Regions from separate parts of the Homo sapiens genome. Here all the other regions are linked to region 2. Evidence: fine-mapped expression QTL. A gene starts in region 2. Each other region holds a variant in brackets. All regions are shown on one strand. Distances are between the middles of the regions.

What was found. PIP is the estimated chance that this variant, and not a neighbour inherited with it, causes the effect.
Region 1: its variant is fine-mapped to the expression of FAM193B-DT in whole blood (INTERVAL, PIP 0.92).
Region 3: its variant is fine-mapped to the expression of FAM193B-DT in whole blood (INTERVAL, PIP 0.94).

The regions. Positions count from the first base shown.
Region 1 is chr5:177,486,109-177,488,904 of GRCh38, forward strand. PDLIM7 (PDZ and LIM domain 7) reads right to left here. Exons shown (of 13, transcript NM_005451.5): 10 at 1,960-2,140. Among named protein-coding and RNA genes, the nearest start is that of PDLIM7, 10 kb to the right of the region's middle. The variant G/A (reference allele first, on the strand shown) is at 1,119.
Region 2 is chr5:177,553,139-177,555,902 of GRCh38, forward strand. It overlaps FAM193B-DT (FAM193B divergent transcript), which reads left to right and starts at 1,490. Exons shown (of 3, transcript XR_941274.3): 1 at 1,490-1,791. It overlaps FAM193B (family with sequence similarity 193 member B), which reads right to left and starts at 1,425. Exons shown (of 9, transcript NM_001190946.3): 1 at 1,111-1,425. The coding sequence starts at 1,320. RefSeq lists silencers at 594-703, 1,034-1,243 and enhancers at 1,124-1,627, 1,354-1,513, 1,534-1,683.
Region 3 is chr5:177,722,180-177,724,824 of GRCh38, forward strand. FAM153A (family with sequence similarity 153 member A) reads right to left here. Exons shown (of 23, transcript NM_001413826.1): 21 at 2,605-2,642; 22 at 2,116-2,183; 23 at 1,185-2,027. The coding sequence ends at 1,934. All of the region lies in intron 4 of LOC107986489 (a long non-coding RNA gene), which reads left to right. Among named protein-coding and RNA genes, the nearest start is that of FAM153A, 59 kb to the right of the region's middle. The variant G/A (reference allele first, on the strand shown) is at 1,436.

The DNA of each region.
Region 1 (2,796 bases), 67 kb before region 2:
GGGTCTTGCTATGGTGCCCATGCTGGTCTTGAACTCCTGGGCTCAAGCAATCCTCCCACCTTGGCCTCCCAAAGTGCTGGGATTACAGGCATGAGCCACTGCATCATGCAGGCAAATCTTCTGATTTTTTAAATTGTTTGCTACTGATTTTAAAATGAAACAGTGTGGGCCAAGCAAGACATAAGTGTGGGGGACATGTAGCCTTCGGATGGTGCATTTCTGCCCTCCACAACACCTGTACCCCATCTTACATCTACCTTGCAACCGTGCCGGCCCTAGCATAGTGCCACCCTTCTCTTCAGTGAGGCCCAGAGAGAGCAACTAGCCCCTGCTCACACAGCCAGTAGATCACAGAAATAGGTTTTCTGCCCATGTCTGGCTGGCTCTTCTCACTGTCTGGTGTTGCCTGTTTTAGAGGAGCAGACAAGGTCACAGTGAAGGAACTTGGGCTTTGAGCTGGTGGGAGAGGGGGCTCTACCAGGGGTGTGGGCTGGTAGGGCAGGAGCCCAAGGCTGGGAGGCAGATTTCTCTTTCTTTTTTTCTTTTTGAGACAAGAGTCTCGCTCTGTCGCCCAGGCTGGAGTGCAGTGGCGCGATCTCGGCTCACTGCAAGCTCTGCCTCCCAGGTTCACGCCATTCTCCTGCCTCAGCCTCCCGAGTAGCTGGGACTACTCCACCATGCCCGGCCAATTTTTTTGTATTTTTAGTAGAGATGGGGTTTCACCGTGTTAGCCAGGATGGTCTCAATCTCCTGACCTCGTGATCCGCCCATCTCGGCCTCCCAAAGTGCTGGGATTACAGGTGTGAGCCACCGTGCCTGGCCCTTTTTTTTTTTTTTTTTTTTTTTTTTTTTTTTTTTTGCTGTCTCCCAGGCTGGAAGGCAGTGGCACAATCTTGGCTCACTGCAACCTCCACCTCTCAAGATCAAGCGATTCTCCTGCCTCAGCCTCCCAAGTAGCTGGGACTACAGGTGCGCCAGCACACCCAGCTAATTTTTTTATTTTTAGTAGAGACAGGGTTTCACCATATTGGCCAGGCTGGTCTTGAACTCCTGACCTCAGGTGATCTGCCCACCTCGACCTCCCAAAGTGCTGGGATACAAGCATCAGCCACTGCATC[G/A]GCCACTCTCCCATTCTTGCCGACTGATGGAACCCCCAGTTTTGCTGGACACATGGGTGCCCAAAATAAAGACTATATTTCCCAGCCTCCGTTGCCACTGGGTGTGGTCATGTGACTGGGTTCTGACCAACAGGATGAAAGCAGAGGTTCAGGTGGCAGCATCCTCTAAGGATGGACGCCATGGGGCTCTGTCCCCTTTCTTCTCCTTCCGACTTCCTGCTGGCTGGAAGGTGAGCATTTTGGCGGAGGCTGAAGTGTCATCTTGCACCATGAGTGGTAAGTAAGCAGGTGCTGCCAACAGTCAAGCAACAAGGCGGAGCCTGGGTCCACCAGATCAGTCCCAGACCACCCACCCCGGGATGTTTTTAGATGAGAAATAAGCCACCATTATTTTGAGTTTCCCACTGCTCGTGGTCAAGGTAAACCTCACTAATATGAACATCACCACACAGAGCTCTCTGGCTACTCCTGGCAGCCCTGGCTCTGGATCCAGAAATGAGGAGGACGCATGAGACAGAGCAGCTTCAGCGTGTCAAGTTGGCCGTTCTGTCATTTCACCAGGGCAGGGAGAGCCCAAAGTGGGAGTCAGGAGGGCCCAGGGCTTCTCCTGGCTTGGTCCTCCTGCTCTTTGCAGCCTTGGGCGGTTTCTGAGCAGGAACATGGTCATTTGTTAAGAGCATCCTGACTAATGCAGGGTGAGGCCAGTACAGCAGCCCATTTATTACGCTGGTAAGGACCCGGAGGGCTCACTCGGGGAGAGACCTGGACTGTGGGTTTCCCAGCAGCCCTCGTTCCCACTGACAGGCTTGGGACCACCTCCCCGCCAGCCAGCCCTACTCACGCCTGTAATCTTCTTCTTGCACTTGGCACAGCTGGGTGCATAGCGCACGTCATAGCATGGTGGGCAGAAGATGGCGCCCTTCTCCTCAAAGAAGCCACCCTCTTCCAGGACCTTCCCACACTGGCTACACACAAACTCCTCCGGGTGGTACGCGTGGCCCAGCGCCACCAGGTAGCGGCCCCTGCAGGGAGGCGAGAGCGGTCAGAGGGAGCACACGCAGAGAGGTGGGGGTCTTGGCCCCCTTCAGGTTGACTGACCACCCACCAGGAGGCCTTGGGAGGGACAGTTCATTCTCCCCATTTTCCACATAGGATAGAAGACAGGCTTGGGAAGTGACCGTGGCAGCCGTGAAGCTTACAGAGCCAGTCCGCCACACTGAACTGCTGGTGACAGGAGAGGCAGCTTTAGAGCAGGGAGGACCCCGGGAGGAAGGGCTGACGACTGGAGCCTCATAAAAGCTGAGCCGCCCCTGGGCAAACCCTGGAGCTGCCCTGTCCTGCTGGCCTGCCTGTTCTACCTGGCAAGAGCTGATAGAGTCGGCTGGGCACAGTGGCTCACACCTGTAGTCCCAGCACTTTGGGAGGCCAAGGCAGGCCTGAGATCACCTGAGGTGAGGAGTTTGAGACCAGCCTGGCCAACATGGTAAAACCCCGTCTCTACTAAAAATACAAAATTAGCCAGGCATGGTGGCGGGTGCCTGTAATCCCAGCTACTCAGGAGGCTGAGGCAGGAGAATCTCTTGAACCCAGGAGGCAGAGGTTGCAGTGAGCCGAGATCGCGCCACTGCACGCCAACGTGGGCAACACAGTGAGACTCTGTTTCAAAAAAAAAAAAAAA
Region 2 (2,764 bases):
AAGGTACCCCAAACGGCAACCCCACTCACATGCACAATTCCAGAGATTCTACTAGAAGGCTGTCAAGAGCCATGCCTTCTGGCTGCACCAGCCTCCCAGAGTCCCCTGCTGCCCGATGCAGTGTCTGCAGAGCCAAACGCATCTTCCGCCACGCCTCATCCTCATCCGGCGCCGCATCCGACCCTCCAAGACTCCTGCAGGAGCCTGCCTTCCTGGGCAGGCTCAGCCAAAAGACCAACTCAAAACTCTTTTGTCAGAGCAAGCTTAGGGAGAGCCACCCAGCCCCGAGTGCCACAACCCTCCCAGAGCAACCGTGGCCCATGTCACCCCCGCCTCTCAGTGAACTTTGGCAGGGTACCTCCCGTTATCTCCTTTGCTCAAAAGAAAGTGACCTTCTTCCAGGTGGCAAGCTGGAAGCTTTGGGGAATCCTCCTACTGTTCGCTCTCAGCAGGATTCTCCAAACCTGGGATCTCAAGGTCGGGGTGGGCTGCCTTGCGGAGCAGGGGAGGGAAGAAGGGCAGGTTCTGCTGGGTTTCCACCTCAGTGCAGAAACCCCACCAAAAACTCCTCCGGGCAGCCTGGCTGTCTGCTCCAACTGCTCTGCTGGGTATGGCGAGGAGGCGCCAGGAGACACAGCTGCTGAGGGGGCCGCGGCTGCAGGCGCTGCAGGGGACGGAGTGGAGCCGTTCCCGGGGGCAGAGGGAAGAGGCTGCAGTCGTCCAGTCCCAGAGCCCCGAGATGGCCTGTGGCTGAGGGAGCAGGTGGGCCCGGGGGAGGTGGCGGGCCGAGAGCGGAGCTGCGGCCTCGGGATCACAGCCCAGTCCCAGTCCCAGTCCCAGTGTGGGTGTACGGCCGGAACGCCCGGAGGCGGCGGGGAGAGGGGAGCAGCTTCAGCCTAGTCGCAGGAGCGCGGACCGAGCCTCGGCTTTGGGGAGAGGGGTCCAGCCTCCATTCCCGCCCCGGGGGAGAAAGCTTCGGCGCCGGACCCGGGGGAAGGCTGCTACCCCAGCCGCGGCAGGATGGCCCATCCCCAACCCCGCCCCACTCCCGCTCCCGCTCGGGGAAGGTGAAAGCGCCCGAGCCGCCGAAGTCTCCCCGCTCGCTCCTACCTGCGGGCCGGGCACCAGGTTGGGTTCGTCATCCTCCCTGGGGCCGTCGTGGTCGGGCTCCGCCGGCGCCTCCGGAGGGCCTGCACCCGCTCCCGCCTCCAGGCTTGGCGGCGGCGGGGGCTCGGGCGCCTGGGGCTTCTGCGGCCCCGCGGCCCGAGCCCGCTCGCGCCTGCCCGCACCGCCGCTCGGCCTGCTCCGCCTCCGCGTCATGCCGCCGCTCGCGCCGCTCCCTCGCTCCACACGCCGCCGCCGCCGCCGCCGCCGCCGCCGCCGCCGCCGCCGCTACCGCTCCCCTCACAGGACAACAGCCAATATGGCGGCGCCCGGTTCCCCCCCTCCGCCTGCTGCCAACAGGTCAGAGGGCACGCGGAGTCCGCGCCGCCGCACTAGCCCCCGAGGCCGCCTGCGCCATTTTGAATAAGGTCACCACCCGGAGTTCGCTGGGAGAAAAACTTGGTGGGGAGACGCCCTTCCCCCCCTACGCGGGACGGGAAGGATGCAACCTGCTGGAGGAACGCGTGTAATGCGGTGGTAATCGCGCTGCACCACCCTAGCACTTAATAATTGCCTGTTAAATGGATGAGTGAATTAATTTCTATAGTGTTACAATACTTTCACACCCATCGTCTGACTCCTTCCGACAGCACAGCGAGGCAGGTACGGATCATTCCCATTTTGCAGGTGAGAAATATTGAGGCAACATAAAGGCCTGGAAAAGGTTGCTGTACATCATTTTGTTGGAACTCCTGGGCTCGTGGACGGCCTGAGTTGAAAGGGACGAAGGTCTTTATTTGCAACATATGGTCTACTGGGAGTCCAGCGTTCTGTGCTTGGGACAGTGGGACTCAAACCCGACTCCTTGTTCCCGAGTCTGATGGGGAAGGTAGACACGTAGGTACATAGTTACAACCGGTGTGATAACGATGAGACGACTAGGTGTTTCCAAAAAAATAGTATGTGCAGGAGAGGATTTTGGAGTGGTACACAAAGGAGAATTTTTAAAACTTAATAATTATGTATTTAATTGTTAAAAATGGAATTTCCCCCCTCTTTTTGTGAATATACTGTATAATACATGTACATGGCACAGATTAAAAAAAAAAAGTTTTGAGTGAAGTCTGTCTCATGCCTGGGCTATGTACTCTGAAATTGTGGTTATATGCAGAGTTGCTATTGGTATCAACAGGGGCGGAATCCTGACACTGGCTTCCTAACCCATGGGGCAAGGGCTATTTTGAAAGGAAGAGCTACATGGAAGGCCCTGGAGCTCTCCTTAACTACCAAGAAAATAAATCAAAAATAGTACCTTATCTCACCCAGGGATTAATGCCACTATCAAAGATTTGAAAGACGCAGGGTGAGTCCCATCACATCACCATTACCTCTTCAGTTTGCCCAGAACAGAAGAGAGACGGCCTTGAAGAACAACAGAGCATTATGATAAACTTACTTATTCTGGTAAGAACCCCAACTGCAGGCATTCTTCCAGATGCGGTCCTTCTTGGGACAGATCAGCACAGTTGTTGGTCTCTAATAGGCAACAAGAGGTCTGGTCAATGGTTATTCTTCTGTACCAAACACCAGGAATCCCTTGCATTGATCTGGCAGGGGCAGCGGTAAACCCTCACTGTCTTGCTTCAGGGTATGTCACACT
Region 3 (2,645 bases), 170 kb after region 2:
GGTGCAGTGGCATGATCTCGGCTCACCGCAACCTCCGCCTCCTGAGTTCAAGTGATTCTCCTGCCTCAGCCTCCCAAATAGCTGGGACTACAAGAGTGCGCCACCACGCCTAGCTAATTTTTGTATTTTTAGTAGAGACGGGGTTTCACCTTGTTGGCCAGGCTGGTCTTGAACTCCTGACCTCAGGTGATCCACCCGCCTCGGCCTCCCAAAGTGCTGGGATTACAGGCATAAGCCACCACGCCCAGCCAGGAAAGTATTTAAAAACAAATTAAGCAAAGATTATAAAAGTTTTTGGAGTAACACATTTCCCGAAATGATCACGATCCACATCAAGTCTGAGCCATGTTGACATCCCCACGTCGGGGCCCTTCCTGGTGGTCGAGGAATCTGCAACACAGACAGAGGTGCAAGGGTCACTAGAGAGGCACAGAGGTAGAGGGAGGAGGGGCTCCCTGGGATGGGTGTGCAGGTCTCAGAGACCTCCTTGGGCCCTGGAAGGTGACCTGGGGCCCCTGAGCTCCCCACAATCAGGTCTACTCAGATGTCAAGGCACTGAGCCCTGTGTGCTGCTCTCTGCTGAGGAGTTATCTGTCCACAGAGAGTGTGAGTGTCATGGAGGAAGAATGAACCTGGGCGCTCACACGGGCACCTTCAGGGGGCTGGTTCCCCGGAGGGTAAAACAGACACACAGAAACGGAATTTCAAGCATACCAGGATCAACAGGCAGAGTCCCATGCCCCTGGGCCCTAAGAGGAGCAGGAGGTCTCATGACACAGGGTGGGGGTGGTGACCCTGCCTTGCCACCCAGATCCTCTGTGCCATCCAGACGGAAGAGCTGCACGTTGAATATGCATAGCTTCCTGGAGAAGAGCTGCACGTTGAACATGCATAGCTTCCTGGAGAAGAGCTGCACGTTGAACATGCATAGCTTCCTGGAGAAGAGCTGCACGTTGAACATGCATAGCTTCCTGGAGCATGTCATTGTTATTGCCTAATAAGACCTGGTCTTTCTAGCATCCCCACCGGACCTGTCTTTGCTTTGTAATTTTTAAAATTATGCTTTGGTAAGACACAAATTTCTCATGTTTGTATATTCTAGCATAAAAGGGTTACAGAAGACATACATTTGAAAGTGAAAAACAGTGTATATGTACACACACACACACACACATTCATATGTGTACCTTATTTCAAGATTGGAAAATATATTTAAAAAACAGAGGCTCGCTAAATCATGTCCTCAAACCCTCCCAAGTGAGCATGGCCCTGAAATGTCTTCAAGGGTTTGTTTTGTTGGCATTTGGCCCAAGCCAGTGCCCTCTACATACAGAAGCCTCCAACCTCATCTTGAAAAAGGGGGCCATGAGGCCACCCCAGGCCCCCACAGAGGCTGAAGGACCCCTGGAACTGGAGGCCCCCAGACCCCCCAGAG[G/A]CTGAAGGACTCCTGGGACTGGACACATTTCAGTGCTTCTTGGATCCTGCCGTGTCCCCTGCTTGACACCAGGACCTACTGAGGGCCTGCTGGCCTGCAATACTGGGTCGGGTGGGCTGCTCGCTTGTGTGACAAGGAGCCTGGGGGTGCCTCCATCCCTCTCACACCTTTCCCAGGAGGCCTGAACCAGGGGGATTCATGTCAACCCTAGTGTCTCCTCAGGATGAACTAGTGATGCTCCCTGTTGTCCTCAAGGGGCTGGGAAGACAGAGCTAGGTCCCCCCAAATGAGATGTTGGTGAGCTGAAGAGTTACTGCAGACAACACAGTGCAAAGCCCTTGGAGTCCTGCACATGGGGGTGCGACCAGCACCTCAGTGTCTCCCTCACTAAGCAGCCTGTGGAGGGCTCAGCCCAGCAGGCTCAGGGGCTGCTATGGAGTGGGTGTCTGTTTCCTGGAGCATGTTCTCAGGGCATCCTTCACTTGCCTTCAGAGGTCTCTAAAATATATTAAAAATGTCCCAACATTTCAGGACATTCCACCGGCTTTTCTTGCTGGGCTTCCTGGTTTTCTTCTTGGGCTTTCTGGTTTTCCTGATGGGACAACAAGAAAGTGAGCGTAGCCAAGAAGAACATGGGCACGTGCCCACTTCCCTCATCATTCTGCCCACTGCACACTCACACTTCCTCTTCCACTTTGGTCTTTTCTGTTGCTTCTTCTGCAGGTGCAGAGGAAGGACTTGCTGACATCTGTGAGGAAGAGAACAATTGTGCATGTCCAGAGACGCCAGTGCAGGAAAAGACCTATCTGTGAAGGCGGTGTCCAGAGCAGACCCAGATGTCACTGGGGGGTCCCTCCAGCAGGGTGGGGTCCAGCTCTTCTGACCCCAGCCCAGCCCCCTCCCCTGGACCCTGTAGGGTTGTTCAGCAAGATTCAAAGCTGCAACCTGGGGGCCAGTAAACAGGGCAATGCCAAGGCAGTGGGCAGGAGGGCTGGAGAGGGATTTTATCGACACTGAAGACCCGAGGACCTCAACTGTGGGATGAGACCAGGTCCTTCAGGAGAACAATCACAAGAGAGGGAAAGAGGAAAAGGACTAGAGCTAAAAAAGGAGCTCATGAGTCAGAAAGAGGATAAAAGACAGCCAGCATATAAGAGGAGATCAATTACCTGCTGGTGGCTGCCTGTAATGGTGGAGTCTTCCAATTCTG